Linked DNA regions of Homo sapiens: region 2 is linked to region 1. The links come from fine-mapping of genetic effects on gene expression. A gene starts in region 1. The other region holds a variant in brackets. All regions are shown on one strand. Distances are between the middles of the regions.

Region 1 (4,389 bases):
TTTAGTTTCTGTCACTATTAACAGCATGACGCATACTGAACATATGAAAATGTATGAGTTCATGTATTATGCTGCTGTCTTGCCATTGTAATGTAAGTCTCTCATTTAAAAAGAAAAAATTGTTTGCCAATGTAGCTAATGAAATATCCAAATGTTTAATTTAGTTCCTAGTGAAATGGCATTTCTGTGATCCACTGCTTTAATTGAATCATCATAGTAATTAACTGACTTGTATTCATTTATATCTTCACTTAATGAAAGCCTCTTAAAATGTTTCACATCAAAACATCTGTTGCCTAAGACATCACCAGTTAACATTGACTTCTGCCCCATAGGCCACTCTTGCTTTAAACTTTATTCATTAGACAACCTAAAAAAAAAATAACAAATACAGAGCTGAGAACTTTTTGAGAAAAGTAATTCAATAGTTATAAAGTGATCTTATTGTTTGATTCTAGTTAAGGTGGTTTTTCTTTAAACCAATACTTCTACAAAATATAAGAGTTGGTTTTTACTTTCTTCTGGACATCACCACCAGTAAAATACCATGCCAATATCTCTAGGCTGGCAATTAAAAGGAAAATGCAGAAAACGAAAACATTCATGAACAGACGTGTAGGTCAACTTCATGACTAAACTGCTATTTAGGAACAGTATGACCAGGCCCCAAACAACTGCTCCAATAAAAATATCTAGGCTCATTTTCATATCGCAAATCAAGCTGTCAATAATACGCCCACAGATTAAATTTGTAAGACCTGATGCCTCAAAGTCATTTAATACAAATTTCAGCCACATATCTTTCCAACTAAGCATAGGGAGAATTCTACCATAAGCATATAACTACTTTTTAGATCAAAAACAATAATTCAAATATGATTGATTATAAGTCAATTAAGGAACCTATTCAAAATGTTAATTGAGGAATCTATTTAACCTACTGGAGAGCAAAACCGTTCCCATGACTCTATACTATAAAGTATTCCAGGGACCACCAGCATACCAAATACATTCTACCTGCCCTCAACACCTTCTGAGGCTCAAAAACACAGGTGTTCTGCTCTTGGAAACTGGCGTTAAATTCAGAGAAAAAGCAGAAACTTTCTTTAATTCCACTGAAGAGGGAATTACTAAATTCATGAAGGCCCACAAATGGTTCAGATGTAAAGTATAAGCTGCAAAAGCTATCAGAGTATACATTCTACCATGAACAAGATGATAAATTTCACCAGAGATAAAAAATACCACTACAGAGGATGAATCAACACACTCATTACTCTTTACTGCTACAGTGACAAACAGGTGTCGAATAACAAGAAAACTTTCCCTAAATCACAATACAATAGCAAAATAAATTGCTCCAGTTGTCAAAGGGTCTAGAATTCAAAATTATTCCGACTGCACTTAAGCAAATTCTATCAAATACACATTTTTTTTTCCCATTAACAAACTTTTGGGGCCCTTTGATGGAGCAATAAATCCAACATGTAAAAAAAAAAAAAAGTGTGGTTAACTTTTGTGCGTGAATTATCACACATCATGTTCTGATAAAATATTCAGTGTGCTATGAAAATCTTTTTCAACCCTGCCAATGAGACTGAAATCTTTCAAGCATGTAGGATTTCATATTTTTAAAAAGATGCCATATTGGTGGATATGAATGTTTCCTTCCTGTAAAATTGCAAAAACAAAAAAAGAAAAAAGAATCCATTATCCCATAAACAAAATAAGAAGCAACACTGAGGCCAGGTCCACTTTGGCTTTCCATTTAAAAAGCTCTAGATTGTATTAAATTGTGATGATTTCATTAAAGTAGACCTGAATGGGTTCTGGGGGTCCAAACACTGCGTGCATCCTCGCAGGAGGGTTTTGTTATTAAAGGATTTGTTTCCCGAGTTCTTCATCCAGTCATTTCCAAACAGATGTGGGTCGGGAAGCAAAAAAGCAACACGTTCCCCGGAACGCGGAGGCTGCCCGGGCCTCCCCGCCGCCCTGTGCCCCACGCGCCTCCGCCCGGGCGCGCTCCGCGGGTGCTGGAGCCGGCGGGGTCCGCGCGCCAGTGCCGGGAGCCGGGGTGGCGGCGGGGAGCCCGGGGCGGCCCGGAGCGAGGCGCGGCCCCGCGGCTCCAACACAATGCGCCGGCGGCGGGAACGGGGACCGCGCGCCCCTCCGCAACAACTTTGCGCGGCCTCGCCCGCGGCCGCCGGGCCTCGGCCCCTCGGCTTGGTCCCCGCCGTCGCCGTCGCCGCCGCCCGCCACCAGCCGCTCGCCGCCCCGGCCCCGCGCGGCCGCCCCTCACCGTTGCAGAACTGGAGCAGCGAGGACGTGTCGTACAGGCTGCTGTAGCTGGAGAAGCCGTCCTCCATGCTGAGGCCGCCGGGCCGCGCCCGCTCCCCGGCCCGGCCGCGCCGCCGCCGCTCACCACACACTGAGCTGAGCCCGACCGCGACCGGCGCTGGCGCTGGGGCCGGCCCTGCTGTGGCGGCTGCTGCTGCCGGTTACCATGGCAACCCCGGGCCCGCCGCCGCCGCCGCAGCCGCGCGAGCCCAGCGCCCGCTCCGCCCGCGAGGGGGCGGCCTCGGCGGCCGCGGGGCCCGGGCCGGGAGGGGGACGTGGCGGGGCGGGGCCGAGCCTCCCCGCGCCTGCGGCCTCTTTCCCCGCGGGGAGCGCGGCCCGGGCGGCCTGGGAGCCGCAGGGGCGCGTCTGCCGCCCGCTGTCCCCTTGGCCAGGCCCCGCCTCCGCGCACGGGGGCTCAGGGGCTGCGGGGCGCGGCGGGCGGCCCTTGCGGGGGCGCGGGGACAAAGACCAAGGCCGGGAGAGAGCGGGCGCGTGGGGCCCGGGGTAACCTCCGCCACGGACACCCAAGCCCACCCGCCCCCGACGCGCTGTTCCCGCGCCCGCGGGCAGCTCCACGACCAAACATGGACAACGCGCCCGCACATTTCGGCCGTTTCCACGCCGCGGCTCACTGTGGCCCACATCCGACCGGCGCGTTCCTCTGTCCACACGTTTTTCCGCGGCAGCAAGGCCCTGCCTCAGTGAGACTTAGCACGGGACTGGCAAGTCAGCTCGAACCTTCGCTCACACTGGGCCAGAGAGGCTATCCTGGTACCAGGCTGGAAGTCCCCCGTGTTGAGGACTCGACGCAGCTAAAACATCGCTTTGTGGTTTCTCTATGATCAGCCCCTGGGATACAGATCTGTCACGTTACAGGCTTGTTAACTTGCTACAGGACTAAGGAAATCAGTATTTATTCTACATCAGAAAGACACCAAGAGTTAGGAGAAAATAGCGCAGTCGGAGAAACACATAGATCTATGAGTTTGTAACTTTTCCAGGCCATACACGTATAAATGCTGTTAATGGTTCGCATTTTATACCCATGGAGTAAAGTAAGTAAAGATGCGCCAAATAACGAGTGGGAAGCAATAAATTAGAATATATAAAATGGATCATCTAACCCAAGAATGAGCTTGGTCCCAAAGAGACTGCAGAACGTTTACACTTCCTGTTGCATCAGTCATAATTCAGTTCCATGCCAAAATCTGAAATGGTAGGTACTAACTTGTGCAGGTTGAATAGAGTAGGTGAAATAAGAACTGAGTAAGTTAAAATTAGGAAAACTCGTAGGTCTCGCTTGGGCTCAGAGGCCTGTCCTTCCAGAAGCCCAGCTTGGACATCAGTAGATGGCAGGTGAGGGACAGGGCTCTGTCACTCTGCGTGCGGCACGGTTAGTGCATGGGTTAGTAAGGACTGGTGCTATATGCTGTGGGCAGAGGGAGAAGTTTAAGAGCTTATTCCTGTCCTAGCAGGATTGTTAATTGGGAAGATACATTGTGAGTGAAGGCTGAAGGGCCACAGGTGCTGCGGGTTTGACTGTGACTTGGTGGATGGAGGACAGTGGGCAGGACACTGCTAGTGAGGAAAGAAGGAACGGTGCCTGCAGACATTGTGCAGACAAGTGGGAAATAAGACTGGACTGAGGGCAAGGGGCCAGGTAAGAGAGGCCCCAAGAGCTGCAGAGGAGCCTGAACCAGACTTGGGGGGAGATGGAGGAACGCTTGGAGGGTTCACGCAGGCAGGCCACTGTTGAGAGCTGTGTTAGGGAGCTGGGTCTGCCTGCCGACTGGGCTGCAGGGGCCGCGGCCTGTTGCTGGAACAGCCCAGGATGTCTGCAGTGCTCCAGAAATGAGGCACCAAGGGCCGGCCAGAGGGAAGTTGCTATAGGACCATACAGCTGGAAAGACAGGAAGGTCAAGCGGGGACAGCACAACCTCCAATTAGAAGTGCCCTGTAGCAACTGGAGAGAAAGAATTGAGATTTGGGAGTTGTCAGCAAAGGGGTTGTAGATGAAGTCTCTAAAGAAGAGAATAGAAAATCGGACAGGGG
Region 2 (4,389 bases), 25 kb before region 1:
CTCCTTCCATGCTTTTCCTCATCTCCTTGTAGTGGAGGCACTTCAGTTCAGTTTACAGCAACCGACTAGAGACGACACTTGGACCTAAGTGTTAATGGAGGTGAACTAAAGCAAAATATAGCTTCAATTTGGAACCTGCCCCTGGATCCTTTACCTGACGTTAAGACACCGGTATACAAGCTGTGGTTAGGAATTCATTTGCTCACAGAAAAAGTACATTGGGATAATGGAAAAGTAATTACTCTGTATCTTTGGTTTCGTATTTTGCCTGCACTGTATATCTGACTGTGCATTGAACTGGTGTTCTAACCAAATGGTAAAACTATGATGCAGAAACCAGGGTGAGAAGAGGTTGAGATGTCAAGATTCTTCTCTTCATCCTCAATAGTCCTCCCTTTGCAAGAGGCCAGCTGCTGAGCACGGGCTACCAATAGTAAGGTCCAAGACGTACAGAAGCTTCCTCTCCGCTGAGCAATGCAGTTGAGTGACCAGGTTTCTTAGGCTACACCGTCACTGATTACAAGTGAGAGCAACGTGCCATACAATTCACTTTCAGTAACCACAAAACGAAAAATATATCAATAAAACAAAATACTGTGTTAGCCCCTGCTCCCATGTATAGGTAGAGCTAAAAAGCTTTAAGTAAAAATATGTAAAGATATATCAACTTCCACAACCACATACCAGGTTGATAATAACCTTAAAACTCTTGCTGCCAAGTTGCCTATATTCTGGAAGTTAGGATGGCTGGTATCAGACAGGAACATCCTCCAGACATGCTCAGCTCTTCCATTGGAACCCCCCAGGCCCTGAGTTATAGGGAAGTACTATTAATTGGTGGCCTAGGTGATAAGCAAATTGCCTGTGTGTCACAAGCTCAGGGCTAAGAGTCATTTTATTTGGTTATTATTTTATTCCTCTTGATTTTAAAAGTGCAGAAGCACATTACACAAGATTTTCAAACGCAGAGAAACAGAAAGTAATCGTGAGCCCTCCCCCAGCCCAGTGAGGCTGGCTGCGTGGTGTGGGCCTGGGCGCTTCACTGAGGGATGCTCGGTGCGAGAGGCTGGGCTCCTGTTGCAGACCCGCCTTTTCCCCCTCCCATGTCTGCTTCACCCCTCCCACCACGGAGGGAAACCTCCAGACAGAGCTTCCTGACACCAAGCTCTAAGACGAGAGTGAACACCTCCATCTCCCCTCTTCCCGTCACCGCAGGGCCAAGGAACAGATCTTGTCTAAACTTCACGTGCACGCTGGCACTTCTAACATCATTTCCGTCGTGGCCACCCACCATAATGGAAATCATCACTTGCAAAATTACCAGGACACCTTATTCGTATAGAGAAAGAAGGGTTAACATTTCCGAGAACTATGAAACCATAGATGGGAAGGAAAAACCACCCTACTTTTAAAATAAAAATGTTCTGGTGGGAAAAGGAAATATAAACTGTAATTGGTATTTTTACCATCCTTTACAGACCTAAAGTCTGTGTGAGCTCAGGAACAAAATCGTATATTATATAGGCTGTATTCTCATAAAATATCATGTTTAGTATGTTACATTTAAAAGCATGTTCTGGCCAGGCGCAGTGGCTCATGCCTGTAGTCCCCACACCTTGGGAGGCCAAGGTGAAAGGATGACTTGAGGCCAAGAGTTCAAAGACCAATCTGGGCAACATAGCAAGACCCTGTCTCTAAAACAACTTTTTAAAAAACTTAGCCAAGCAGGGTGGTGCATGCCTACAGTCCCAGCCACTCAGGAGGCTGAGGATCACTTGAGCTCAGGAGTTTCTCAAGGCTGCAGTAAACTATGATTGCACCACTATACTGAAGCGTGGGTGACAGAGCGAGACCCTGTCTCTAAAAAACTAAATAAAATCAACAATTAAATTAATTTGAAAAGCATGTTCTGACGATATGTAGTTTAGTTGAGGAGTTAATAATTTAAAATTCTTCTCTGCTCTCCTCTGCAGACGTGAAGGACCAGGACGATCCAGGCCTCAGGTTTCCCTCCTCCTAAAACCCGTGGCTTGCTTTGACTTCTCTCCTGACTTGAGCCCTGTGACTATAGTCGGCAAGTCCACACTCTCCTTCTGGGTGATCTCATCAACAAGGGGGCCCTCAACCACGACCTACACTGATGACTCCTCAGCTGACACCTCAAGGCCAGAACCCTCTCAAGCTCCAGCTCTGACTCCTTCTGGACACTTCTGCCTGAAGATAGAGTGATGCACACGTGTGTGTGAATATGATACATGAAGTTCGCATGGTCATCTTGCCTCTAATCCTCTTCCCACACCCCTCACCTCTATGAAAGCACCACCGTGCAGCCATCAATCTACAAATCTTGGTGTATCTTTGACTGATTCCATATTTTTTGCCCTCTACATTGAATCAATCATCAAATCCTGCCTATTCGAATATCTGCAGATATAGGACATTAAATATCTTCTAAATATCCACACATTCACCTCCATTGTCACCTCCTTG[G/C]TTTGGGCCTAAGTGGTGTTTTCTGGACTCCGGCAACAACCTCAACTGGTTTATCCATCACTCTCATCACTCCGCATCCCATTCCTCTTCTTTATGTCTGAGTGATCCTTCCAAAGTGCAGATTTGATCACCTCACATCCCTGCTAAACTCCTGTAGTGGATCTCCATTGTCTTTGGGATCTGGCCTCCAGATACTTCTTTGGCCCCCTCTTATCCCTGAGCCCCCACCCCCAACTCTTGTACTGCAGCCCTACTGAACTATTTGTGGTTTCTTGAACACTGCACACTTTCGCCTGCTTCCAAGCCTTTTCCCGAGCCACTCTATCTTCATGGAACACCTCCCCCATCTTCTTTAACTGGCTTTACTTCTACTTCTACCCTTCCAAACTCAGCTCAGTGATACTTCCTCCAGGAAACACCCCTTATCACCACCACCAGAATACCAAGCTGGGCTGGGGGCTCCACCTACACTCTAGCAGAGCATCCCTTCTGCTTACTGTGATCATGGCACTTACGAGAAGGTTTTGCAAGCATCTGTTTACTTGACCCCCTTCTCCATTAGACCGTGAGCTCCTTGCAGTCAGGGACTGTGCCGTTCATCTGAGTATCCCCAGCACCTAGCACAACACCTGGCACAGAGTCGGCCCTCAAGGAATGTGCCGAATGGGGAACTTTCCAATACTCAACAGCAGCAGTTCTAAAAGTGTGGTCCACAGACCCCTGAGTCCCTGAGACCCCTTCAGGAAGTCCCTGAGGTCAGAATTACGTCCTTAACAATGCCAAGCTCTAATTTCCTTTGTCGTTGTGTGACACCTGCACTAATGCTGCGGGAGCCATGGTGGCGGCACCTGGGCTGCCTCAGCACCAGCCGGGACAGGCACCACGTCGCTGTGCTCTTCTTCACTGCCACCTACAAGAAAGATGCCAAGTTCATATACAAAGGCCTTTGATGACGCTGTAAACAATATTAATTTTATTAAAGCTCAACCCTTGAGTACAGGTCTCTTTATGAAGCACTTTTGCTGCACACCAGCCAAACTGAGCACTGTGCAGTCAAGCTGTGAGCTTCTTCTGAGGGAACATCATTTTCACTTGAAAGAACAACTGATGGACAAACCAGGGTTCTTCACACCTGAGTGTTCTATAATCATTTTCTCAAAAAAATGAATGTAGTAAGCCCGTCACTCCAGGAAAAACAACAGCATTTGCTGCCAAGGATAAATTTGAGCTTTCCAGAAAAAAAAGAAAGAACTTTGGAAAACTTGTACCAGCCTCTGTAAGCCTGACAGCTCCCCAACACCTACATGCTGTTTTGATGACATTGGGGGTTGATATTAACCCATGTGCTTTTTTGATATTGTATAATGAAATATGTCACATTTGGAAGGTCTGCATAACTCAGAGAATCAATGTTCTCAAGGAATCAAAGCACGGTGTTACAAAATCAAGCCTGGGAGAACAGCCATTTAAACGCAAGACAGACCAAAAAGCTTGAGAACTGCTAACCTACGTGCCAAAGTGAAGGACATGGAGTAGGAAGATGTCAGCCACACACAGCTCCATCCAAATGGACTCCTCCCTTCTCTGAGGCATCTGCCATGCCTCTGGCAGTTAGAAATGGATCTTACACTTGGATGTGACAGCTGTACCATTCTGGCTTAGGCCTTCTTCATTTCAAATGAAACATGCAACTTTCAAAGTTGGACCAAACTAAGAAGCAATGTGGGTCAGAAGAAGACCTATGGACCAGGAATCCCACTGTCACCAGGCGAGCTGAGTGAAGCATCCATCCAGCCTCTAAGCTCCTGATGTCCTTATCTGTAGCACGAGGCCTATCTGCCTACAGACAGACTGTGGTTGTGGGAATCAAATCAAACATGGGCTGGGTGCGGTGGCTCA

Alleles and levels. Alleles are on the strand shown, and positions count from the first base shown. SD is a standard deviation of normalised expression in the study named.
For the expression in esophagus mucosa of the gene that starts at base 2,430 in region 1, allele G in region 2 goes with a higher level than allele C (small effect, 0.32 SD a copy in GTEx).

What was found. PIP is the estimated chance that this variant, and not a neighbour inherited with it, causes the effect. A credible set is the group of variants that fine-mapping cannot tell apart.
Region 2: its variant is the best candidate, but not a certain one, in a credible set for the expression of EML1 in esophagus mucosa (GTEx, PIP 0.59).

The regions. Positions count from the first base shown.
Region 1 is chr14:99,791,454-99,795,842 of GRCh38, reverse strand. It overlaps EML1 (EMAP like 1), which reads right to left and starts at 2,430. Exons shown (of 22, transcript NM_004434.3): 1 at 2,300-2,430. The coding sequence starts at 2,366. RefSeq lists an enhancer at 1,678-2,509 and a silencer at 2,257-2,736.
Region 2 is chr14:99,816,444-99,820,832 of GRCh38, reverse strand. The region is part of intron 1 of EML1 (EMAP like 1); the gene reads right to left. Among named protein-coding and RNA genes, the nearest start is that of EML1, 25 kb to the right of the region's middle. The variant G/C (reference allele first, on the strand shown) is at 2,491.